Linked DNA regions of Homo sapiens: regions 2, 3, 4, 5 and 6 are each linked to region 1. Evidence: fine-mapped expression QTL. A gene starts in region 1. Each other region holds a variant in brackets. All regions are shown on one strand. Distances are between the middles of the regions. Region 1 holds the start of SLC2A5 (solute carrier family 2 member 5). Region 2 overlaps SLC2A7 (solute carrier family 2 member 7). Region 3 holds the start of GPR157 (G protein-coupled receptor 157). Region 4 overlaps SLC2A5 (solute carrier family 2 member 5). Region 5 overlaps SLC2A7 (solute carrier family 2 member 7). Region 6 overlaps SPSB1 (splA/ryanodine receptor domain and SOCS box containing 1).

Evidence for each region.
Region 2: its variant is fine-mapped to the expression of SLC2A5 in blood mononuclear cells (TOPMed, PIP 0.93).
Region 3: its variant is fine-mapped to the expression of SLC2A5 in whole blood (TOPMed, PIP 0.92).
Region 4: its variant is fine-mapped to the expression of SLC2A5 in whole blood (TOPMed, PIP above 0.99).
Region 5: its variant is fine-mapped to the expression of SLC2A5 in prostate (GTEx, PIP above 0.99).
Region 6: its variant is fine-mapped to the expression of SLC2A5 in whole blood (INTERVAL, PIP above 0.99).

The regions. Positions count from the first base shown.
Region 1 is chr1:9,067,407-9,071,493 of GRCh38, forward strand. It overlaps SLC2A5 (solute carrier family 2 member 5), which reads right to left and starts at 2,229. Exons shown (of 12, transcript NM_003039.3): 1 at 2,098-2,229. The coding sequence starts at 2,130.
Region 2 is chr1:9,017,252-9,021,338 of GRCh38, forward strand. It overlaps SLC2A7 (solute carrier family 2 member 7), which reads right to left. Exons shown (of 12, transcript NM_207420.3): 4 at 1,958-2,082; 5 at 972-1,124. Among named protein-coding and RNA genes, the nearest start is that of SLC2A7, 7.1 kb to the right of the region's middle. The variant C/T (reference allele first, on the strand shown) is at 1,844.
Region 3 is chr1:9,127,458-9,131,544 of GRCh38, forward strand. It overlaps GPR157 (G protein-coupled receptor 157), which reads right to left and starts at 1,645. Exons shown (of 4, transcript NM_024980.5): 1 at 1,188-1,645. The coding sequence starts at 1,570. RefSeq lists silencers at 1,502-1,851, 1,912-2,231 and enhancers at 2,933-3,002, 3,023-3,142, 3,433-3,522. The variant G/C (reference allele first, on the strand shown) is at 2,404.
Region 4 is chr1:9,032,205-9,036,291 of GRCh38, forward strand. SLC2A5 (solute carrier family 2 member 5) reads right to left here. Exons shown (of 12, transcript NM_003039.3): 12 at 2,902-4,087. Among named protein-coding and RNA genes, the nearest start is that of SLC2A7, 7.8 kb to the left of the region's middle. The variant A/T (reference allele first, on the strand shown) is at 2,268.
Region 5 is chr1:9,000,284-9,004,370 of GRCh38, forward strand. It overlaps SLC2A7 (solute carrier family 2 member 7), which reads right to left. Exons shown (of 12, transcript NM_207420.3): 12 at 2,690-3,235. The coding sequence ends at 3,017. Among named protein-coding and RNA genes, the nearest start is that of SLC2A7, 24 kb to the right of the region's middle. RefSeq lists an enhancer at 3,998-4,087. The variant A/C (reference allele first, on the strand shown) is at 1,792.
Region 6 is chr1:9,329,708-9,333,794 of GRCh38, forward strand. The region is part of intron 1 of SPSB1 (splA/ryanodine receptor domain and SOCS box containing 1); the gene reads left to right. Among named protein-coding and RNA genes, the nearest start is that of SPSB1, 39 kb to the left of the region's middle. The variant G/T (reference allele first, on the strand shown) is at 1,614.

The sequences.
Region 1 (4,087 bases):
TTTCGCAATGTGTTACTCAGTTTCAGGGCCTGCCACGTGGGGGTGTTTCCATTCCTTTCTGCAGCTGGACTTGGTGGACGTGGGGAACGTGGCAGTTGTGCCTTTCTCTGGACAGCGGAGGACCTCCCTGGACCCCAAACACCTAAGTCCTCATCACCTCCGTTTCTTTTCTATAAAATGGAGGTGATGACACTTGATTTGTCTAACACTTTCTTAGTTGTAAGACAAACAAGATGACCCAAGCGAAGGGGCTGAGTAGACTCCAAAGCAGTGCCTCTCAGTTGAGGGCTGGGAGTGGATTCTGCCCTCTCGGGGACATCGGTTGTCACTCCTGGGGGAGGGAGCTACTGCGTCTAGAAGGTAGAGCCAGGGACGCGGCTAAACATCTTATAACACACAAGACAGCCCCTACAACGAAGCGTTAGCCAGTGCCAAATGGAAATCACGCGGAGGTGGAGAAACCAGCCTAAAGAATGATTGAAAAGTAGTAACATTTACGATGGCCGGGCGCGGTGGCTCACACCTGTAACCCCAGCACTTTGGGAGGCCGAGGCGGGCGGATCACCTGAGGTCAGGAGTTCTAGACCAGCCTGGCCAACATGGTGAAACCCCATCTCTACTAAAAATACAAAAATTAGCCGGGTGTGGTGGTGCATGCCTGTAATCCCAGCTACTTGGGAGGCTGAGGTGGGAGGATCGCTTGAGCCCAGAAGGTGGAGGTTGCAGTGAACCTTGATCGCACCACTGTACTTCAGCCTGGGTGACAGAGCAAGACTCTGTGTCAAAAAAAAAAAAAAAAAAAAGCGAGAGAGAGAGAAAGAAAAGTAGTAACATTTACGGGGAACTCACTCTGTGCCAGGTACTTTACATGCATTATCTCATTTAATTGCTCCAGCACCCTATGAGGCGGTATGGTTATTACTCCCATTTTACAAATGAGAAAACTGAGGCACTGAAGAGTTAAAGAACTTACCCAAGTCCCACAGCTAGAATAGGATGGAGCAGGAATGAATCCTGGGGGCTTCTACTTCCCAGGCCCACTCTTTTTTTTTTTTTTTTTTTGAGATGAAGTTTCGCTCTTGTTGACCAGGCTGGAGTGCAATGGCGTGATCTCAGCTCATTGCAGCCTCTGTTTCCCAGGTTCAAGTGATTCTCCTGCCTCAGCCTCCTGAGTAGCTGGGATTACAGGCACCTGCCACCACGCCTGGCTAATTTTTGTATTTTTAGTAGAGATGGGGTTTCACCATGTTGGCCAGGCTGGTCTCGAACTGCTGACCTCAGGTGATCCACCCACCTCAGCCTCCCAAGACCCACTCTTAATCTATGTGCTACAGAGCATGTTTCCAGTCTGCCTATGGTGAGGGTCTCACATCCATGCCTGAACAAATGCTGTTTTGCAAAAATGTGCACTATCCTTCCTCCACTCCAAATATAAGCAGATGCTATTGTGATGAATAAATGCAAATTCTTATAAAGTGTTAATAAGTCAGTGTTACTTTTCTGACATTATGCATTTTCCTCAATCAAGGGAATCTAGAAAGTAAACTGCAATTACGTTGCAGGAGTCCATGAAAATCTTTCCTCTCTAAAACAAGGGAGCCTCAGGATCTAAAAGGCAGGAAACCTACGTGACAGATCTGAACTAAATTCAAATCAAGCAACGCCTTTTCTGAGTTTATCTTGCTTTCATGCAGCTCAGCTATGTTACTTGCTGAAAAAATTAACTGCCCTGAAGCCAAAAGCAAAACGAAAGCAGAGCGAAACATCTCACCAACCATAGAAGGATTTTGCAGCTAACATGTTTGGTTCAAGTTGGGACAAATGAATCCTTTGGGTCTCTTCCATTCAGTTACAGATCCTGCTGTTAAAGGCTGTTCCAGTAGAATGATTTCCACAGAGCACTTGTCTCTAAACCTCTCTCCTCCCTATAAAAGACCACCTGCTGGACAAGACTTTCCCCCTCTCCCCACCATAATCCCTCCCAACACAGAGTTCCCTCTGCAACACCAGGAGCCCCCCAGCGACTCTCCAGGAAGGCTGCACAGGCCCTGGCAGCCAAGCCTGCTCTTGGCCCCTTTCCCTGAGCAACACACTCACCCCTTCCTTCATGCTCTGATCCTGTTGCTCCATGCTTGCTCTGGAAGGGCAGAGTGCCGCTCACCTCCTTTTAGCCAAAGTAACGCGTGCACTGAATGGAGAGAGAAGACATTCTGGGTGCACTTTGGCCATGCCAAATAACAGCCAATAGCATTTTTATAGCCAGATTAAGTCAGAATAACCCTTTCAGGAACCTGGTCTTCCTTTCACTTCTGCTTTTAAATGAAACGTCTGGGGTTTGGCTAAGTAAGTGGGTGCCCCCTGGGGACTGCAGGCCCAGCATTGTCCTGATGGAACAGTCTACGGTATTTCCCCATTGCTAAAGTCTCTACCAGTCAGGCTCATGGTGAATGACTGGAAGGGTTATTTCTGTCAGGAACGCATGGCAAACAACAGCTGTCCTCCACCCTACATGACACCAGGTAATCTGAGGGCAACAGATTGGGCCACTAGAGACCTCAAAGATGCTCTCCCTGCCAGGAAAACTACAGTCAAGTGTCTCTTGGTGGAGAGTCAGTTTTGCCCAAGTCACCGTGTAATACTGTTTGGGGAAAGTTTCTCATTTTCTGTTTTTTTTTTTTTTTTTTTTTTTTTTTGAGACGGAGTTTCGCTCTTGTCCCAGGCTGGAGTGCAGTGGCATGATCTCAGCTCACTACAACCTCCGCCTCCCGAGTTCAAGCGATTCTCCTGCTTCCACCTCCTGAGTAGCTGGGATTACAGGCGTGCACTACCACGCTCGGCTAATTTTTATATTTTTAGTAGACACGGGGTTTTGCCATGTTGGCCAGGCTGGTCTCGAACTCCTGACCTCAAGTGATCCACCCTCCTTGGCCTCCCAAAGTGCTGGGATTACAGGCGTGAGCCATCGTGTCCGGCCTCTTATTTTCCATTTTAAGGAGCTCAGAATGACCTAGGGATGTTACTTTCTGTGTATTCATCACTACTGGGAAGGTGGTAAATACCTCGAACCCCTTTCCAGGCAGGGCAGGGAAAATGAGTCACACCTGCTGGTCCGGGTCCGGCCATCTCAAGGCCAGGCCACTGTCAGCCCCCCATGTTTGGCACTCATTCAGCTGCCACAGGGCACACCAGCGCAAGTGGCCAAAATCCAAAGTCTCACAAGTCCCACAGGTTTTCATCTTTACAGAACATACTCCCAGTTCTATTTGCTGTGGCGTAAATCCAGTTACTTTAGTGATTGATTCTGAATCTCATGCATCTTTAAACAAGCAGAGACTGGGAGCCTGTGTTAGGCACTGTTCCTTGCATTAGCAGCAAATCCCCAGGGTTGCTCAGGGTGGGAGACTGTGAGAAGCCTAGCAGCGTGGCCGTCTGTGTGTGTGTGTGTGTTGGGGGGTCGGGGGGGTCCCTATTCACAAGGGAGAACTCAGCATTCCCTTTCACCAGCTACTGCCTGTCTTTTTCTTCTGCGTATCACTGTCCTAGCACACTGACTTGTGACTAACGCATAGCAAGACCAGAGGTTTCCAATTATTTCAAAGATCTAGAAAAAGTTTCCAAAGAAAATGCACTTTAATTGCAGGGGTAGGGTGGGGAGAGGAAATCAACGATGGGGGAGTGAGGAGACGGGTACAGGTGTGCAATCCAACACAAAGAAGAATCCGGCCGGGCGCGGTGGCTCACGCCTGTAATCCCAGCACCTGGGGAAGCCAAGGTGGGTGGATCACCTGAGGTCAGGAGTTCGAGACCAGTCTGACCAACATGGTGAAACCCTGTCTTTACCGAAAATACAAAAATTAGCCAGGCATGGTGGCAGACGCCTGTAATCCCAGCTACTTGGGAGGCTGAGGCAGGAGAATAGCTGGAACCCGGGAGGCGGAGGTTGCAGCGCACCTAGATCACACCACTGCACTCCAGCCTGGGCGACAGAGCGAGACTCATCTCCGTCCCCCATCCTCCCCCCAAAAATAATCGTCCAAAGTTTGTAGTCATCAGTCATGTCAAGTGCATGACACCTGCTTCTATCTAG
Region 2 (4,087 bases), 50 kb before region 1:
GGAAGTTGCAGTGAGCTGAGATCGCGCCATTGCACTCCAGCCTGGGTGACAGGGTGAGACCCTGCCTCAAAACAACAACAACAAAACAACAACAACAACAACAAAACTAGCCAGAAGGAAAATCTCTGACCAATGCTGTTGGCTGTAGGTCATAAAAGGCCCCCTATTCTGCAGAGGGTCCTGCCCCACACCCAGAAGGAAGGCTGTACAGAGGCCAAGAAGGACCTACACAGACAGGCCTCGCGGGGTCTCCCCACTCAGTCCATTTACGTCGGATCAGACCCTTTTTGTCCAATGCTATTTCTACTCGGCTGTCCGTACTCTGTTGAGCCTGGACTAAAACGGACAATTTCCCCTCTATCTCTGGCTCTTCACTCTGAAGGCTCTGCGAATCTGGTTAAATATGTTTGCATGCCTTTTCTATTAATCAATCGGCTTCGTGTCAGTGATTTTTCAGCAGACCTTCAGAGGGCCACACTCCTCTCTCCTAAATCTCCACCACGACCCCCACTCGCTCTCAGGCAATGGCCTTGCCTCCTAATTCACTGGGAAGATAGAGGCCGCCAGAAGAAAACAGCCACCCAGTGACAGAGACGGTGGCTGTGAACCTGCTTGCCCTGCATTGACTTCCCTCTGTACTGGACCATTCCTATGGCAGCCAAATTATGCTGACACTTTTCATGGCTTGAAAGAAACCTCTTCTCTCGACCTCACTTCCCCAACTTCTCTCCTTCCCTTTATAGCAGAACCCCTACCTGCCTCAGAGCCCGATTCCCATTCCTAAGCACGATTTGTCGCCATCACTCACCAAAACAGCCCCGACCACGTCACCCATCCCTTTGCCCACCACACTGCCCAACACCTGACCCTAAAATCATCTCTCGGGTCTCATCTGACTCGATCCGTCAGTAACACCTGGCACAGCCGAACGAGAGACTGGACCTAGCGTGACCTCTGCGGCTGCCGGTTACCTGCCGGGTTGCCCAAGATGGCCTGGAGGCTGAAGATCTGTGCTAGGAAGACTCCAACGATGACGAAAACCTCGGTCATTGTTCCCACCATGCCTCTCAGGTTCTTGGGGGCCAGTTCTCCCAGGTACATGGGAAGGGCGCTGTAGGAGATGCCTGGTTTGGGCACAGCAGAAATCAGGGCAGGCAAACCGCAAACGCAGAATCTGAGATGCAATTCAATTCCGTTTCCTAATCCCGGGGCTTCTCCATGCTGTCAGCCCCTCCGTGGAGATGGAGCTCGGCCAACCTCGACTGTTTAGTTTGGACTTACACCAAAATCCCTCCAGAATCCTCAGCCCCCACGGGGGAGTCACCAGGATGTGATGAGGAGACCTTTTCCTTTCTAGCCACCGGGCTGGGCCGCTTGTTACAGGGGAGGAGCCTAGGCCTCCGTGTGTCCCTGGGACTTAACGATAAAACTTTTGCTTTGGTCTATTTTCTGATTTTTCTAAAGCACAGATTGCTTGTCTAACTTTTATTCATAGAAGAAATTACTGTAGTTAAGAAACTACTGAGTTTAAATTGTCCATCTTCCTGGGACGATACCTTGTAAAACCTTATTGGTTATTTGTACTTCAAGGTGAAAGTGTTTCTAAAGATCCATAAATAAAGGGAAGGGGCTAGTAAGCGTGAGGCTTGGCCAGGTACAGTGGCTCATACCTGTAATCCCAGGACTTTGGGAGGCCGAGACAGGAGGATCACTTGAGCCCAGGAGTTTGAGATCAGCCTGGGCAACACAGTGAGGCTCTGTCTCTAAAAAAAGATTAACTAATTAATTAATTAAGAAAAACAAGCATGAGGCTTGCAAGGGCCTGGGGATGCAGATGGGAGGA[C/T]GTCTTGAAATGAAAAGAGGCAGAGCCAGGCAGACACCTCATCTGCTCCTGCTTCCAGCCTTGGCCAAACAGACCCTTCCCCCAAGGCTGAGCCGGAGCCTGGGCCCCAGGTACCTGCACAGACTCCCAGCACCACTCGGGAAAAGACGATCAGCTCAAAAGCCTTGGCCACTTTGCTGACTCCCATCAGGATGGCGGGGATGATGGCAAAGATGTTGTTGATCAGCAGGGTCCCCTTTCTGCAAAGACAGTGAGCCCAGAGGGCAGGGGTGCGTGGAGGCCGCGGAAGCCCTCCCAACACCAGCTCCTATTCTGCGGGCAGTCACTACAGAGGCGCGGGGAATGTGCCCGAGAAAGAGCTGAAGCAGGGGGCCGTGGACTGAATGGTGTCCCCCAAATTCCTATGTTGAAGGCCTTAACCCCAGTGTGATGGGATCAGCAGGAGGGACCTCTGGGAGGTGAATAGGTCATGTGGGGCCCTCACGATGGGATAGGAAGAGACATACAAGAAACCACTCTCTTTTTCTGCCCCGTGAAGACACAGCCAGGCTGGGCATGGTGGATCAAGCCTATAAACCCAGCACTTTGGGAGGCTGAGGTGGGCGGATCACTTGAGGTCTGGAGTTCGAGACCAGCCTGGCTAACATGGTGAAATCCCATCTCTACTAAAGAAACAAAAGTCAGCCAGGCGTGGTGGCACATGCCTGTAATCTCAGCTACTCGGGAGGCTGAGGCAGGAGAATCACTTGAATCCGGGAGGCAGAGGTTGCAGTGAGCCGAGATCGTGCCACTGCACTCCATCCAGAGCCACAGAGCAAGACTCCAACTCAAAAAAAAGAAAAAGAAAAAGAAAAAAGACACAGCCAGAAGAAAGCTGTCTGCAAGCCAGAAAGAAGGCCCTCACCAGGAAACAGATCTGCTGGTACCTTGATCTTGAATTTCTATCCTGCAGAACTGTGAGAAGATAAATGTCTGTTGTTTAAGTCTGTGGTTGTAGCAGCCTGAACTGATTAAGACAGATGGGAAGAAGGGGCGAATGGGCAGACGTCCCAGGAAGGAAGACTTGGGGTCAGTGGGGGTAGAAGCTGGGGAGGGGAGCATTCTAACGATCGGAGCTGCCTGCAAAGGGGAGGGCAGGAACAAAGAATGGGCTGTCCCAGGAGGTAGAGAGCTTCCCATCACTGGTGGTATTCAAGCTGTCGCTGGTGGTTTCTAGACTAGACACGATGACTGTCAGGAACGTTGAACAGGGAATTCTTACAATCAGTGGGGTGCAGAATGGGACTACATGATTTCTAAGATCCCTTCCAAGGCTGAAAAACCACAAGCCTGAGAAGGAGAGGGAGTGCCTGAAAAACAGCGCTATGCCAGGTGCGTCCTGCTGCCTTCATGATCCACTCATCTGCTTGACTCTGTGCTCTAGGTCCCCTGCCAACTTGCAGCAATGGCTCCTGTGCCCCCCCCCACCCCCCCGCCTTTGGCTTGGGTTTTGCACAGGAGAAGAATGGGCAGTGGACCAGAAAGAGGGCAGAGAGCTCCCGAGCTGTGGGGTTGCTGGCTGGTGCATCCTGATATTCTCTCTTTTTTTTTTTTTTGAGATGGAGTCTTGCTCTGTCGCCCAGGCTAGAGTGCAATGGTGGGATCTTGGCTCACTGAAACCTCCGTGATATGGTTTGGCTGTGTCCTCACCCAAATCTCATCTTAAATTCCCACATGTGTGGGAGGGACCTGGTGGCAGGTCTTCCCAGTGCTGTTCTCGTGATAGTGAATAAGTCTCACCAGGTCTGATGGTTTTATAAGGAAGAGTATTTCTGCACAAGCTCTCTCTTTGCCTGCTGCCATTCATGGAAGATGTAACTTGCCCCTCCTTTGCCTTCCGCCATGATTGTGAGGCTTTCCCAGCCACGTGGAACTGTGAGTCCATTAAACCTCTTTCTTTTGTAAATTGCCTAGTCTCGGGTATGTCTTTATCAGCAGCGTGAAAATGGACTAATACACTCCGCCTCCCGGGTTCAAGCAATTCTCTTGCCTCAGCTTCCCAAGTAGCTGGGATTACAGGCATGCGCCACCATGCCCAGCTAATTTTTGTATTTTTAGTAGAGATGGAGTTTCACCATGTTGGCCTGGCTGGTCTCGAACTCTTAGCCTGAAGTGATTGGCTCACCTCAGCCTCCCAAAGTGCTGGGATTACTGGCGCGAGCCCCCGTGCCCAGCCTGGTATTCATTTTTTATTTCTTCTCTCTC
Region 3 (4,087 bases), 60 kb after region 1:
CCATCACGGGACCCAGACAGGGTCAGATGGGATGCTGCCGGGAAGGCAAGGCAAGGCAGGGCCCTATTCCATCTGCAGCATCTGAGCCTCGGTTTGGATGATGTGTTGCAAAGATTTTTTACTTGTACAGCTGAGAAGCAGGTCACTTAGTTTCTCAAGGACCAGCCGGCCTCAGTGCACAACTGAAGGTCAAGCGACTCTTACAGCCCTGTAGCCTTGCCGTGTGACACCCAGGTGACCTGTCTCTGCCAAAGTGCTGACTGTGCTCGCAGTCCTTGGAATGCACTTAAGTTTTTAATAGAAAGGACCTATAATTAGGGCAGTATCTGATGCTCTGATCTGGGAGAAGGAGAAAAGGAAAACAGCCCCTAGGATTCCTGCCCTCAGTTCAGCACAGCACAGGACGCCATGAGATTTTCAAAACCTGACATTCCCCAGGGAAGGGCCGACCCTCTTCAGCGAGGCTTACTTGAAAGACGCTTGAATCGCAAAGTAAGGTCTTGGCTTTTCCCCACTCTCAGAGAGACTCCAGGAGGACTCCGAGACTCCCAGACCAGCCCTCCGCCCCTGCCCTCAATCTCAGAATTGCTGAACTCTGGAAAGTCAAGATCATCTAGAACAGAAATACAAGGGGCTGGGGCCTGAGGCTAGAAACGACCAAAGACAGAATAAAAAGCACAGTCCTTTGTAAACTGTACAGCAGAGACACGGCAGCTCGGGAGTGGCGGAGTGCACCAAGCTCACTGTGGCTTGGGGTGGGGTGGTGGCGTGGGACTGGCAGTTGCCGGCTCTCCAGCCCGGGACAGTTACCTAACTCGTCTCCCAGCCTGTTTCCCCATGGGCAGCAGAGACAGCCAGGACACAGTGAAGCAGGTCACAAGGGGCTCAGAGTGTCCTCCCCAGCCCCGTCCAAGGAAACAGGGCCCGGCTCTGGGGGCGAACTCTGTCCCCACTACCCCAAGGGGCTGTGCCCTGGGGCAGGCACAGCGGGGCTCCTTCGGGAGGGAGCGAATCTCGGGCAAGGCTGGCCTCCTCCCGCTGGCCCAGGACAGCCTCGGGGGCGCCAGCAGGCACTGCTTGCTGTGGGTAGGGGGTGTCCAACCTAGACGCGGCCTCTGGGAGGGCAAGACCGGGAGGGGTCGGCCTGTGTCGGGGGCTCCTGGAAAAGCAGCGCCACCGCCACCCACCTGACGACATGGAAGGCCCAAAGCAGGCGATCTGTGCGAGGCCCGCGCGCGGCGCGGACGATGCTGAGGTACAAGTAGAGCGCAATGGCCACGGTCCAGAAGAAGGAGCTGGTGTTGGCGAAGGTGGACAGCGCGCCCTGCAGCACGCAGTCCCACGACGGGCCCGCGAAGTTCTGCAGCACTCCGTAGAAGTAGGAGGCGGCCGAGAGCAGGTCGGCCAGCGACAGGAAGAGCAGCAGGCGCCGTGCCCGGCTGCGCAGGTCGGGCCACAGGGCGTGCGTGGCCACCAGCAGGCCCGAGCCGAGCGCGGAGAGTGCGCACGACAGCAGCACCACGGCGCGCTCCGACGGCACCAGCTCGGTGGGCGGCGGGGACGGCTGCATGGCGTGGGGGGCCAGGAGCCGGAGCGCCGCGAGGACAGAAGCCGGGCCGCGCGTGCGGCCACGCCGCCGCCGTCTGGGCACCGAGGCGCCCTAGGCTCGCGTCCAGGCGCCCGCCCCGCCCGCGTCCGGCCGCTCCCCCGCCCATCTGGGCCCCGGGCCCTGAACCCCGTCCACGCCCTGCGCCCCGCCCCTATATCCCGGGCCCTGAGCCCCGCCCACGCGCCGCGCCCCACCCCGGTACCCCGGCCTTTAAGCCCCGCCTACACTCCCAGCCCCGTCCCGCCGTCCCAGGCCCTGAGCCCCGCCCACAATCCGAGCCCCGGACACACGTCCCCCGGCCCACATGCCCTTCCCGCCCACACGCCCCCCCCCCGCCCGTGTGCCCCCGCGTTGAGACTGGGACTTAGAGCTCCGCCCACGCGCCCCGATCCCCTGTCCACAGGGCCCAGAGACCTGGGCCTAGAGCCTAACCCACGCGCCCCGCTCCGCCCACGCACCCCGCCACACCCCTGTGTTCCGGGCCCTGACCCTGGCTCAGGTGCCCTTCCTCGTCCCGTTGCCCCGGGCCCTGAGCCCCGCCCCCGCCACGCCCCTGAGGCTTCCAAGCTCCACCCGGTGCCCGAGGCTCCTGAGCCCCGCCCACGCCCTCACACCACGCCCCTAAGCCCCTAGGTCCCTAAGCCCTACCTCAGGGCACCCCCAGGTCCCAGCACCTGTCCCTCCACGCTCCTCCAGGCCCACCCCTGCTCTTGCCAGGTGTCTGGGACATCCAGTCCTGTGAGAGGAAGGGCTGGCATTTTTAGGGCTAATATTACTTTCCCTCTTTTCAGCCA[G/C]CTTCTGTGTGTGTTGTGAGTGGAAGGGCGTGAGGATCAGAGGCATTCTTTCCACTAGCAACAGAAACAGCTCTCGGGTATGATCCTCATTCCTTCAGCCGTGATCCCGACGTGTTCACAAGTTGGTGGTGACTTGGGGAAGCCGGCGTTTCCACCTTTTCTTAAAATAAGCATGCTATTTTTTAAAAACCATAGCTAACTAGGTGTGATTTTTAAAAAATGAAATGCTAGGCAGGGCATGGCTTTTTCTTTAAAAATTTCAAACTTTGTAATTAAGATGTAATTCACATACCATAAAATTGGCCCTCTTAACCGAACAATTCAGTAGTATGTTCACAAGTTTGTGCAACCATCATTATTATGTAATTCTACAACATTGTCATTACTCCCAAAAAGAAATCCTTATCCCTCAGCTGTTAGCCCTCAGTTCTCCCCGACAGCCCTGGCAACCACTCTTCTACCGTGGATTTGCTTATTCTGCACATTTCCTGTAAATAGACTCATATGCTCTGTGGCCTTTATGTCTGACTTTTTTAACTTAGCACGTTTCCAAGGTTCATCGTAGCATATGCAGTGCTTCATTCCTTTTACTGCCCCGTAATATTCCATTATATGGATATACCACCTTTTTTTTTTTTTTCTAGAGACGGAGTCTCCCTCTGTCGCCCAGGCTGGAGAGCCGTGGCATGATCTCGGCTCACTGCAACCTCTGCCTCCCGGCTTCAAGCAGTTCTCCTGCCTCAGCCTCCCGAGTAGCTGGGACTACAGGCACACGCCGCCACGCCCGGCTAATTTCTTTTCTATTTTAGTAGAGGTGGGGTTTCACCGTGTTGCCCAGGCTGGTCTTGAACTCCTGAGCTCAGGCAATCTGCCTGCCTTGGCCTCCCAAAGTGCTAGGATTACAGGCATGAGCTACCGCGCTCGGCAGGATATACCACATTTTACTTAGCTATTATTCATCAGCCGATGGACATTTGGGTTGTTAACACTTTTTAACTATTAAGAATAATACCACTATGAAAATTTGCATACAAGTTTTTTTGTGGGTGTATGTTTTCAATTCTCCTATGTGTATACCTAGGAATGGAGTTGCTGGGCCATACGCAACTTTATATTTCACCTTGTGAGGAACTGCCAAGGTGTTTTCCAAAGTGACTGTACATATCATTTTACATTTGCACTAGCAATGAAGGTCGCAATTTCTCTACATTCTTCCAAAACTTTTTTTTGAGACAAGGTCTTGTCGCCGAGGCTGGAGTGCAGGTACAACCACAGCTCACTGCAGTCTCAAATTCCTAGGCTTAAGAATTCTCCCACCTTGGCCTCCCCAGTAGTTAGGACTTCAGGTGCATGTCACCATGCCCCACTAATTTTTTTTTTTTTTTTTTTTTGAGACTGAGTCTCGCTCTTGTTGCCCAGGTTGGAGTGCAGTGGCGTGATCTTGGCTCACTGCAACCTCTGCCTCCCGGGTTCAAGCGATTTTCCTGTCTCAGCCTCCTGAGTAGCTGGGATTACAGGTGTGCACCACCACAACCTGCTAATTTTTGTATTTTTAGTAGAGACAGGGTTTCACTGTATTGGCCAGGCTGGTCTTGAACTCCTGACCTCAGGTGATCTGCCCGCCTCAACCTCCCAAAGTGCTGGGATTACAGGTGTGAGCCACCTTGCCTGGGCCCCACTAATT
Region 4 (4,087 bases), 35 kb before region 1:
TGGGCGGCTGCAGCTGCATTGGGAGGTGGGGTCGGTGGGGGCCTCCTGCCTCCTCCATGGAGCAGAAGGTTAGGGTCTATAGCTGCAGTTTGGGTGGCTGCAGTGGCACCCGGGGAGCTCCTGTTTGCTCCATGGAATGTGCAGCCTGGGCTGCACCTCCCTGCTGCAGCTGGTGTGATGGCAGCGGCAGCCGTCTGGAGTGGCTGCTGCCATCACCATCCCCTGACATTGTCTAATTCTCCCAAAGCGTCATTTCGCCTCAGCTTTCACCGATCTTTGCAGGCAGCTTGGCTCCCAGTGGTCTCCAAACTTTTAAAATCATGCCTCCCCATCAGTAAGAAAATGTTGCCTACAAACCTCTAATATATGTCTACTTATTTAAAAAAAATTTTTTTTTTGAGACAGAGTCTCACTCTGTTGCCCAGGCTGGAGTGCAGTGGCACACTCTCAGCTCACTGCAAGCTCCACCTCCCTGGTTCGTGCCATTCTCCTGCCTCAGCCTCCCGAGTAGCTGGGACTACAGGTGCCGCCACCATGCCCAGCTAATTCTTGTATTTTTAGTAGAGACGGGGTTTCACCTTGCTAGCCAGGATGGTCTCGATCTCCTGACCTTATGATCCACCCACCTCAGCCTCCCAAAGTGCTGGGATTACAGGCGTGAGCCACCACGCCCGGCCTATGTCTACTTATTTTTTATGTTATATATGTGTACGTGTTCTGTAAGTGACATAACACCCACTCAAGCAGGAATAGCAAAGGGAGGAAGGAAGAGTGAACAATAACTAGAGCTCCCATTCTTTCTTTTCTGCCTCAGTTGTAGTCTTCACCCTAGCAGTCTACCTTCTGCCCCCACACTACCCCTGACAGCACTCCCTGAGGTCACTGAGTCATTGAATCCAAGGGGAACTCTTTTTCTAGTCTCAGCAAATGGCAGAGCTTGGCAGCTCAGTCCTCTCTGCTGGCTTTCCTGTGCCCCTTGTTGGATGGTGCTCCATCTCCCACCTTAAAAAAAAAAGTTATTTATTTATTTATTTATTTATTAGAGACAAGGTCTTGCTCTGTTGCCCAGGCTGAAGTGCACTGGTGTGATCATGACTTCTAGGCACAAGCGATCCTCCTGCCTCAGACACCCGTGTTGCTGGGACTACAGGTGTGCATCACCACATTCAGTTAATTATTTTTATTTTTACTTTTTTTGTAGACATGGTGGGGGGTGGGGGTTTCTCACTGTGTTGCCCAGGCTGGTCTCGAACTCATGGCCTTAAGTAATCCTCCCACCTCAACCTCCCTAAGTGCTGAGATTCCAGGCATGAGCCAGCACACCCAGCCCACCTCTCACCTTTCATCCTCTCAGTTGGCAAACCTGGGGCAATCTTATGCAAATGCGAGGTTTTAACCTATTCTCGAATCTTTTGTAAGGATCTGATTTCCTTGCTGTCTCGTGGGCTCCTTCAGACTCTTCTCCAGAGCAGCTGGAATGATTTCTTAAATTGCAAATCAGATCAGGATACTCTCTGGCTCAAGTGAGCCAGTGGCCTTCCGACACATTCAGAATAGAATCTCTGATGCTCCTGGGGGCCAACTGAGTGTCTGCACAGTGCCCCCAGGCACCTAGTGCCCCCTTCCTCCTCCCCAACCCCCTTTCTGCCGCAGCATCACTTGCCTCCCATCGTTCCCTGAACCATGGCCAACCCTCTCCCACAAGACATTTGCATCTGCTGCCCCCCAGCCAGCCCCACTCCCCTCTCTGTTCAGCTGCTTCTCCACCTGTCACCCCTTGGGCTAATCTACTTTTCTTCACTGCAACTCTCACTCAGAACCCTGGCCCCAGGGCCTGGAGCCATGCCTGGCACACAGTAGGTGCTTACAGATATATGGTTTCCCCAAACTTATGTCCCTGCTCCCCTGAGTTCCAGAGCCACATGCCACCTTCCTTCTGGATATCTTCTGTGTGTCCCATGATCTCCTCCATCTCAATGTGTCCAAAAAGTATATGACCTTCTCCTAAAACCTGCCACCCAGCTCTTCCAGCCATTCCCCATTGGCCCATATTAGAAACCTGGCAGGGACGCCCGACTGCTCACTGCTGAGTGGATCCCAAATCCTACTGACTCTCTGAATGCTCCCTCACATTCGGCCCTGACTACTGCTGGCTTTGCTGGGTCCTCATTATTTACCAGCTGGTCTCCCTATCCAAGCCCCACCCCTTCACATTCATGCCAGGTGCTCCTGGAAACTCGGTCATCACATAACCCCTGGTTGTCTTG[A/T]CAATGAAGTTCAACTTGGCTCCTGGGACCCACAGGATCCACTATAGCTGCCCCCACCCCGCAGCCCCTGCCACCTCTCTGGCTTCACTTTCAGACCAAATAACTTGTAGCATCCCTCAATGCCTCCACACCTCTCTGTGCTGTCTGTTGCCTGGAATGCCCATCCCTCACTTTCCTATCACATCTTCTCCAACTGGAGAAATCACACTTGTTTTTCCAAATTCCTTACCTCCCTTCTATACTCCCACATCTCTCTTCCTGCTGTATTTTACTAACCCATGTGTAGATACTTATCTATATTTGTATATGTAGCCTGAATCTATATTAAACTGCATGTGAGTTCATACCAAGGTCTCCAAGTCTACTTGGAGTAGAGAGTGATCTACTACCACATGGATCATTCGCGCTCTCTCCCTGCTTATCTGTAACCTCCCACTGCAACTGTGAAATGGCCCCCACCATCTGCCATCCATTTACTAGATTGCTCAATCCTAGTATACATGCAGAGTGGCCTCTCACTGTATCTTATTTGTGAGTTTATTTGTCCTCAAGATTAATGCTTATTCCCAAGCACTGAAAAGTACCTAAGAAAACTAAATACATGTCACTGATCCAAACACCAAAAACATATAAAGTCATTTAATTCTCACAATGGACATGTGAGACATTTACTATTAGTGCCATTTAACAGAAGAGAAGACTGAGATACAAAAAAGCCAAGTAACTTTCCAAGTTGCACAACTAATGTGGCAGGACCAAGGTTTGAACCCAGGGAGCAGACATCCAGAACCATGAACTTCATAGCCTCCCCTGTGTTAGAGGTGCTGCAGTTTCTTGACTTCTGATATTCTGACCTGGCCTCTCCTCAGCTCTGAGAGCCTTCATCTTTGGTTGTTTCTGTGCCCCTTCCAGGCTGCAGATCCTTGCTGCAGAAGGCCAAGGATGGTTCAACCACAGTGTTCTGTTTACTTCCTCTGGGCCCGCTTGTGAGTGGTTTAGCTTGTTGCTGGTGGAATCTCCATTACATACCCACAAAAAGTGCTCCCAAGTCCCACTGCTCTCTCTCCCGGCCACCAGCCTCTGCCACCCATCTATGAGAAGACATCACTTCTTGCTACAGGCCATTCAGCACTTTCAAGGTTTTATCCATATTTTTGCACATACACTCACACTCACACCCTTTATTCATATCTCTAAGAAAAACCTCCAGCTCTCTATATTTTTGGGGAGAGACCTGTGTTAGACCATTTTCATGCTGCTGATAAAGATGTATCAGAGACTGGGTAAATTGCAAAGAAAAAGAGATTTAATGGACTCGCCATTCCACATGGCTGGGGAGGCCTCACAATCATGCCAGAAAGCAAAAGGCACGTCTTACCTGGTGGCAGGCAAGAGAGAATGAGAACCAAGCAAAAGGTTTTACCCCTTACAGAACCATCAGATCTCATGAGGCTGATTCACTACCATGAGAACAGTATGGGGGAAATTGCCCCCATGATTCAATTATCTCCCACAGGGTCCCTCCCAGAACACATGGGAATTATGGGAGCTACAATTCAAGATGAGATTTGGGTGGGGACACAGCCAAACCATATCAAGACCCTGTTCCTTTTCCCTTCCTCCCCCACCACAGTCTCAAGATTTTAAGACTCCTCAAGATTTCATTACATATGTGAGGACATTTGGAAGCTTCCTCAATCTTACATGTATTTATTTATTTGAGACAAGGTCTCATTCTGTCATGCAGGCTGGTGTGCAGTGATGCAATCATGACTCAGGGCAGCCTTGACCTCCCAGGCTCAAGCGATCCTCCCATTTCA
Region 5 (4,087 bases), 67 kb before region 1:
GCACTCCAGCCTGGACAACAGAGCGAGACCCTGTCTCTAAAAGGGGTGGTCTAGGCTGGGCACGGTGGCTCATGCCTGTAATCCCAGCACTTTGGGAGGCCGAGACAGATGGATCACCTGAGGTTGGGAGTTCAAAACCAGCCTGGCCAACATGGTAAAACCCCATCTCTACTAAAAATACAAAAATTAGCTGGGTGTGGTGGTGCGCACCTGTAATCCCAGCTATTTGGGAGGCTGAGGCAGCTGAATCGCTTGAATCTGGGAGGCAGAGGTTGCAGTGAGCCGAGATTGTGCCACTGCACTCCAGCCTGGGCAACAGAGCAAGACTCTGTCTCAAAATAAATAAATAAATAAAAATAAAATAAAAGGGGTGGTCTAATTCTCAACACAACCATCCCCCCTGCCACTATTGTGGGCCGGAGTGACTGACTAGCATCTAGCAAACAGCATGTGACTTTCCTGGTGTGTGTGTGTGTGTGTGTGTGTGTGTGTGTGTGTGTGACTCTGTCTCCCCCTGCCCCATCACCCCCAGGAATCCAGTGCCCCAGGTGTGAGGAGCCCAGGCTGAGTGTCAGTTTCACTGCCCTCCAGCACCAGCGATCAGAAGCGGAAGAAGCCTCTAGACAGCTCTGCTCCTGGGCCTCCGAGTCTTCCAGCTGAAGCCCCAGATGTCAAAGGGCAGAGAGAAGCCATTCCCACCGAGTCCTATCTGAATTCCTGACCCACAGGAACCAGGAGTCACAATAGCTGTCATTGTTTTAAGCCACTAAGTTTGGACACTACAGGGCAACAGGTAAACCTATAATTAATATGCAAAGTGACAAGCATGCCAATGGAAAAAGATGCACGGTGATTCCAGGGCCCAGAGGTGAGAGGACCTCCCGCTGGACAGGACAGGAGAGGTTCTTCAGGCTCATTCGAGCTGGGTTTTGAAGGCTGGGTAGGGCTGTGATCGTTTGGAGGGAAGGCACATGAAAGCACGCCAGGGAGAAAGGCACAGAGGATTGGAAGTACTTGGGGTGGTGGCAGGAAACCCACGTTATGACAATACGGTTCCAGCCTTATCATCTCGAGTGATAGAATCAGCCTAGGATTCCAGCAGGGAGTGACATGGTCAGGCCTGAATGCAGGTGCTATTTTTTTTTTTTTTTTTTTTTAGACAGGGTCTCACTCTGTCACCCAGGCTGGAATGCAGTGGCATTATGGCTCATTGCAACCTCTGCCTCTCGGGCTCAAGCAATTCTCCTGCCTCAGCCTCCCAAGCAGCTGGGACTATAGGCGCACATGACCGCACTGGCCAATTTTTGTATTTTCAGTAGAGACGGGGTTTCATTGTGTTGCCCAGGCTGGTCTCGAACTCCTGAGCTCAGGTGATCTACTCGCTTCAGCCTCCCAAAGTGCTGGGTTTACAGGTGTGAGTCACCACGCCCGGCACTGCACCTTGTTTTCAAGGAAGATATCAACTTCCCCATTGGAGGGAGAGGAGGAGAGAGAGTGGACTGGGAATGGTCTTACTCCCTTGCCTGTGGCCCCTGTTGTGGGGGGAAGAATGAGAGATCAGACTGCTACTGTGTCTATGTAGAAAGAAGTAGACAGAAGAAACTCCATTTTGTTCTGTACTAAGAAAAATTCTTCTGCCTTGAGATGCTGTTAATCTGTAACCCTAGCCCCAACCCTGTGCTCGCAGAAACATGTGCTGTGTTGACTCAAGGTTTAATGGCTTAGGGCTGTGCAGGATGCGCCTTGTTAAAAATGTGTTTGCAGGCAGTGTGCTTGGTAAAAGTCATCGCC[A/C]TTCTCCATTGTCGAGTACCCAGGGACACAATGCACTGCGGAAGGCCACAGGGACCTCTGCCCAAGAAAGCCTGGGTATTGTCTAAGGCTTCCCCCCATGGAGATGGCCTGAGATATGGCCTCGTGGGAGGGGAAAGACCTGACCGTCCCCCAGCCCGACACCCGTAAAGGGTCTGTGCCGAGGAGGATTAGTGAAAGAGGAAGGCCTCTTTGCAATTGAGGTAAGAGGAAGGCATCTGTCTCCTGCTCGTCCCTGGGAACGGAATGTCTCGGTATAAAACCCGAGCGTACGTTCTGTTTACTGAGATAGGAGAAAACTGCCTTATGACTGGAGGTGAGACATGCTGGCGGCAATACTGCTCTTTACTACACTGAGATGTTTGTGTAAAGTCAAACATAACTCTGGCCTATGTGCACATCAAGGCACAGCACCTTTCCTTAAACTTATTTATGACACAGAGCCTTTGCTCACATGTTTTCCTGCTGACCCTCTCCCCACCATTACTCTATAGTCCTGCCACATCCCCCTCACCAAGACAGTAGAGATAGTGATCAATAAATACTGAGGGAACTCAGAGACCAGTACTGGTGAGGGTCCTCCGTATGCTGAGCGCCGGTCCCCTGGGCCCACTGTTCTTTCTCTATACTTTGTCTCTGTGTCTTATTTCTTTTTTCAGTCTCTCATCCCACCTGACGAGAAATACCCACAGGTGTCGAGGGGCTGGCCCCCTTCACCCTGTGATCGACAGGACAGAGCTGGGCACGCAGGCTGGGATTCACGGTGCAACCTGCAGCCACGGGGTGGAGAAAGGAAGCCACGTCGCCAGGAAGGCAATGGCATTCAGAGCCTTGGACTCCTTAATTGATGCAATGACGGCAGCTCGGGTATCCATAGCAATTGTGGAACTTGAAAAGTTTTACTTTAAAAAAGTGCATCTATACATCATTTAAATTTTGGTGCCAATGTAGAATCGGAAAATCGAGTCTTAACCAATCAAAATTCACGTGCCGGCCCCTTCCTCCAGGTCATTCCTCAATGGCTAGCCTTGGAACTTCTCAGCTAAATATGCATTGTTGTGGGTATTTAATAATATCCATAATTAAGTTAAATGGGGGCAACGACAAAAGCCTCCGTGCTATTATCCTCCCCAGAGCCTGGGGCCGGGAGGCCCATTGTCATAGAAGGAAGCCTTGAATATGGGCTCCCGTCCTTCATGCAGGGCCACTAAAAGGAAGTTTCCTTGGCAGGAGAGGCTGTGGGAGGCCCAGCATCAATGGTTTCTTCTTTCTCCTCTGGAAGCTTCACCCTGTTTCTCTTGGCAAAAATGCGGTTTATCTCCACAAATGTTTTGCCCTTGGTCTCCGGAATAACCACGTAGATGTAAATCGCAGTGAGGAGGCAGATTCCGGCAAAGATGATGAAACTGTAGGCACCGATGGCCTCCTAGACCAGGAGACGAGAAAGACAGGAGGGGGCAGAGAAAGGCAACAGTGCTGATTCAGCTGAGCACGTTGGCTCATGCCTGTAATCCCAGCACTTTGGGAGGCCAAGACAGGTGGATCACCTGAGGTCAGGAGTTTGAGACCAACCTGGCCAACATGATGAAACCCTGTCTCTATTAAAAATACAAAAATTAGCTGAGCATGGTGGTGTACACCTGTAATCCCAGCTACTTGGGAGTCTGAGGCAGGAGAATCGCTTGAACCCAGGAGGTAGAGGTTGCAGTGAGCCAAGATCGCGCTACTGCACTCCAGCCTGGGCAACAGAGCGTGACTGTCTCAAAAAAACAAAAACAAAAACAAAAACCCCAAAACAAACAACAAATAACCAATGCTGGTCGAGGCCTTTGTGAGTCCATAAAGGAGTTGCTTGGCAGCCAGTTTTGTTTCACTCCTGGAGGAATGATATAGCTAGAAAACTGTGATCACTAAAGATTGTTTGCAGGAAAAAAAAAAAAAAAGCTAGAAATTGGATTCCCCCTCACCCTATTATCAAAAAGAATCTGGTTGGGTGCTGTGGCTCACACCTATAATCCCAGCACTTTCGAAGTTTGAGACCAGCCTGGGCAATATAGCAAGACCCCATCCCTAAAATACATAAATAAATAAATAGCCATGTGTGGTGGCCCATGCCTGTGGTCCCAGCGACTTGGGAGGCTGAGGTAGGAGGATCACTTAAGCCTGGGAGGTCAAGGCTGCTATGAGCTGTGGTTGCACCACTGCATTCCAGCCTGGGTGACAGAGCAAGGCCCTGTCTAAAAAAAAAAAAAAAAGACTGCTTAACCTTTTGACAGTA
Region 6 (4,087 bases), 260 kb after region 1:
AAAAAAAAAAAAAAAGAGAAAAGAAAGAAAGAAGTTAGTGCTGGAGTCCAGGAGACTTCCCAGATCTCGGCATCGGACACATGGCGGTGGGGCCGTGGGGATGGTAGGCTTGGGTGTGGAGGTAGAAGAGAGCGTTCTGTGGGTAACGTGACTCTGCAGACATTTCTTCTCAAAACTTGGATACTATGAGGCCTTTGGAATCTTTTCTGGGACTGATTCCTAGAGTCCAGGGAGAAAATTGCTGTGGATGACAGGACAGCGGGTTCAGAGTGGCCCAGGAGCAGGTGACTGCACATTTTTGCAAAGAGCAAAAGGGAAACCTGACCATCTGCATGGGTCTCTTACCTCCATTCTGAGGACACAAGGCATCTCTTCTCACTGTAGTTTGTCAAAGATCAGTGGCGTAAATAATTGCTAGGTGCTTGCTCATCGAGAAGAATCTGAATGACACCTGATATGTACACATAAAGATGTACCAGGCTGGGCACGGTGGCTCACGCCTGTAATCCCAGCACTTTGGGAGACTGAGGCGGGCGGATCACCTGAGGTCAGGAGTTTGAGACCAGCCTGGGCAACACGGTGAAACCCCGTCTCTACTAAAAATACAAAATACAAAATTAGTCGGGCGTGGTGGTGCATCTCTACTACTCAGGAGGCTGAGGCAGGAGAATCGCTTGAACCCGGGAGGCGGAGGTTGCAGTGAGCCAAGATTGTGTCACTGCGCTCCAGCCTGGGCGACAGGAGCTAAATTCTGTCTCAAAATAATAACAATAATAATAATAATAATAAAGATTTGCCAGTCTCCTTACTCCTACCACCCCAAGGGAACCACAGTAACATCCTGCCAGCTGGACCTTGTGATCTGGACACACGTATCCCTAACTTCACCCGACACGTTTGGGGGAGTATTTTGGGTTTGCCTGTCCTCTTCCTTTCCTCCCCTCCTTTTTCTCTCCCTTCCCAAACTGATGTTAGACTGGAGCATGTTCTTCTGAACTTTTTTTTTTTTAATCGTGGTAAAACATACAAAAACCTAAAATTTACCATCTTAACCATTTAAGACGTGCAGTTCAGTAGCGTTGAGTACATTACCGGATCGTACGATCATTTTGAGTTTGAGGAACCACCCTACTGTGTCCAGCGGCTGTGCCATTTTGCGTTTCCATCAGTGATACCCAAGGGTTCCGGTTTCTCCACATCCTTGCCAACACTTGTAATTTTCTGCGTCTTTTTTTTTTACATACTTAAAAAAAAATCCTAAATCTTTTATTGAAGGATGATATACCCAGAGTAGTTCCATACCTCCCTGCCTGCACTGACCTGTATGTCTGCATCTTTGGGGATGCCATTATTTTATTAGAATGGGCTCTCCTTTCATATTCTGTCGTGCTCTCCCCGCTGAATGCTTGTGGAAGTGTCTCCAGGCTCACTGATGTGGTTCTACCTCGTCTTTTTAATTGCTGTGTAACAACGGTTCATGGTGCAAACATATCAGAGTGGTCTGCCTAAGTGACCTTTGTCAATGACTGTGCACTCGATTTGGAGTGGCAGGAAGTGGCCGCACCTCTGTCATAAATACCCGTTATGGATCTCCTTCTGCTACTGGTGCTCTT[G/T]TTTTTTTTTTTTTTTTTTTTTTTTTTGAGGTGGAGTTTCACTCTTGTTGCCCAGGCTGGAGTACAGTGGTACGATCTTGGCTCACTGTAACCTCTGCCTCCTGGGTTCAAGCGATTCTCCTGCCTCTGCCTCCTGGGTAGCTGGGATTACAGGCATGCGCCACCATGCCCGACTAATTTTTTGTATTTTTAGTAGAAACGGGGTTTCATCATGTTGACCAGGCTGGTCTTGAACTCCTGACCTCAGTTGATCCACTGCCTTAGCCTCCCAAACTGCTGGGATTACAGGCGTGAGTCACCGTGCCTAGCCGGCACTCATTCTTATGGGCTCACGCACCAGGGGTGGAATTGTTGGATCAGTTGCCATTCATTTCCCCGAAGCTGCCGGATTCAGATCCCACCAGCCACGTTGGTACTTGCTCTCCGCTTCCTGTGTGTAGACAGGAGGCACCATCTCTGTATTGACTCTGTAGCAATCTGGAGGGTGCAACGTGCGATCTCATTACTGCTTTTCTTTTATGTCCTTTTGTCTCCATGGGAGGTTGAGCTTCTTTTCCTACAAGTTTACTTACTGTTTGCATTTACTTTTTCTTTGCATTGTCTGTTCCAGTCCTCTGGCTATTTGACTATTGTGTAATAAAAGGACCAAAAACAAATGTGCCAAACTGTTGACAGTTTGAGTGTTGAAAATATGTGACTCTTTTGTACGTGTTTGAATTACAGATTTTCAAAATTTAAAAAAGCCTTGGCCAGACGAGGTGGCTGATGCCTATAAATCCCAGCACTTTGGGAGGCCAAGGTGGGAGGATTGCTTGAGGCCAGAAGTTTGAGAATAGCCTGGGCAACATAGTGAGACCCCACCTCTACCAAAAAAAAAAAAAAATCTCAATGAGAGCGTTTTAGGAAGATTTGTTTGAGTGGGCTGAGATCTAAGGGACTTGGAGACTCTTGCAGTGGCCTTGCAAGTGATGACTTAAACAGTGAGAGTGAAGGTGGGATTCAGCAACTATGGGGGCAGCAATTTACAATGTTTGGCGCTAATGTGGGAAGCCAAGAAGAGGAGGAATTGAGGGAGATGAGGGGTTTGAATCTGGGTGAACTAGAGGTTGATGATAGAAATTGGCAGCATTGTAGAGGCCAGGAGGGGGCCATTTGAGTCTACAAGGGATGTATGAGTGGGAGCAGGGTCACTGCTGGGGAGATGATATTTGGTGGACACGTCAGGTTCACAGGCAGACACTCCCTGGAGCCATGAGAGCAAAGGATCCCACGGAGGGAGGTCCTGTGGAGGGAGAGACCCTCAAAAACATCTGTGTGTAAGGAGCAGGAAGAACAGGCGGAGGAGCTGAGACAGAACCTTAGAGAGTGAGTCAGATACTGTCACAAAACTAGGAGCGTTTCAGGTCAAGGGCATGGTGGTATTTTCAGATACAGTTGAGAGGTAGAGAGAGGATGCTTGTTTTTTGGGCCCGTTCAATTTATCGATTAGGAGGTCATGATCTTGGAAGAGCATTTTCCCTGCAGGGTCTAGGCCTGAGGTCAGCTTGCTGCTTCTGCAGCCTGAGTGCGTAGAGGGTGACGGAGACCACAGGAAGTGTGGTGGCAGCAGGAGAGGGCATCGGCTGTGGGTGGTTCTGGCCTGGGCCCCATCCTGGGCTCCGTGGCTGAGACTTGGTTTCAGTGCTCTCCACCAGCAAGTGCTCACTGAGCTTCTGCCCTCGTGGGCTGCGTCAGGCACCCAGCAAACCCCCAGGGTCCAAGAATCAGCCTCCCAGGTGCACACTCCATGGGAAAATGGCCAGAAACATGGAACCCACCTTCTTCGGTGAGAACCTTGGTCTGCCCTGTTCAGTGTCTGCTCCCAGAGGGACCAGCACAGCCATCTGTCACTTCCTGGACAGCAGCCTGTCCCTAATTCTTAGCCATTTAGGGCCTGGTCTTATATGCATTTATCTCCTTTTTCAAGTCCACTTCTACTTCCTGTCAGTTCTGTCTTCTTGTCAGCTTCTTTTTTTTTTTTTTTTTTTTAAGGCAGAGTCTCACTCTGTTGCCCAGGCTGGAGTGCAATGGTGTGATCTCGGCTCACTGCAACCTCCGCCTCCCAGGTTCAGGCGATTCTTCTGCCTCAGCTTCCCAAGTAGGTGGGACTACAGGCGCGTGCCACTATGCCTGGCTAATTTTTGTATTTTTAGTAGAGACGGGGTTTCGCCATGTTGGGCAGGCTGGTCTCGAACTCTTGACCTCAGGTGATCCGCCCACCTCGGCCTCCCAAAGTGCTGGGATTACAAGCGTGAGCCACCATGCCCGCCCTCCTTGTCAGCTTCCTGAAGCGCCTGCGGTGTGAGCCTGCTGTGAACAGCCTCATCCAGTGTAGGCTGACCCCAGAGCGGCCCGGGGAAGAGCACAGTCATTTTTTTATTCCAACGGAAAGGAAACGAGGTTGCCAAAGAGACCCAAGGAGCCCACGGGCCAAA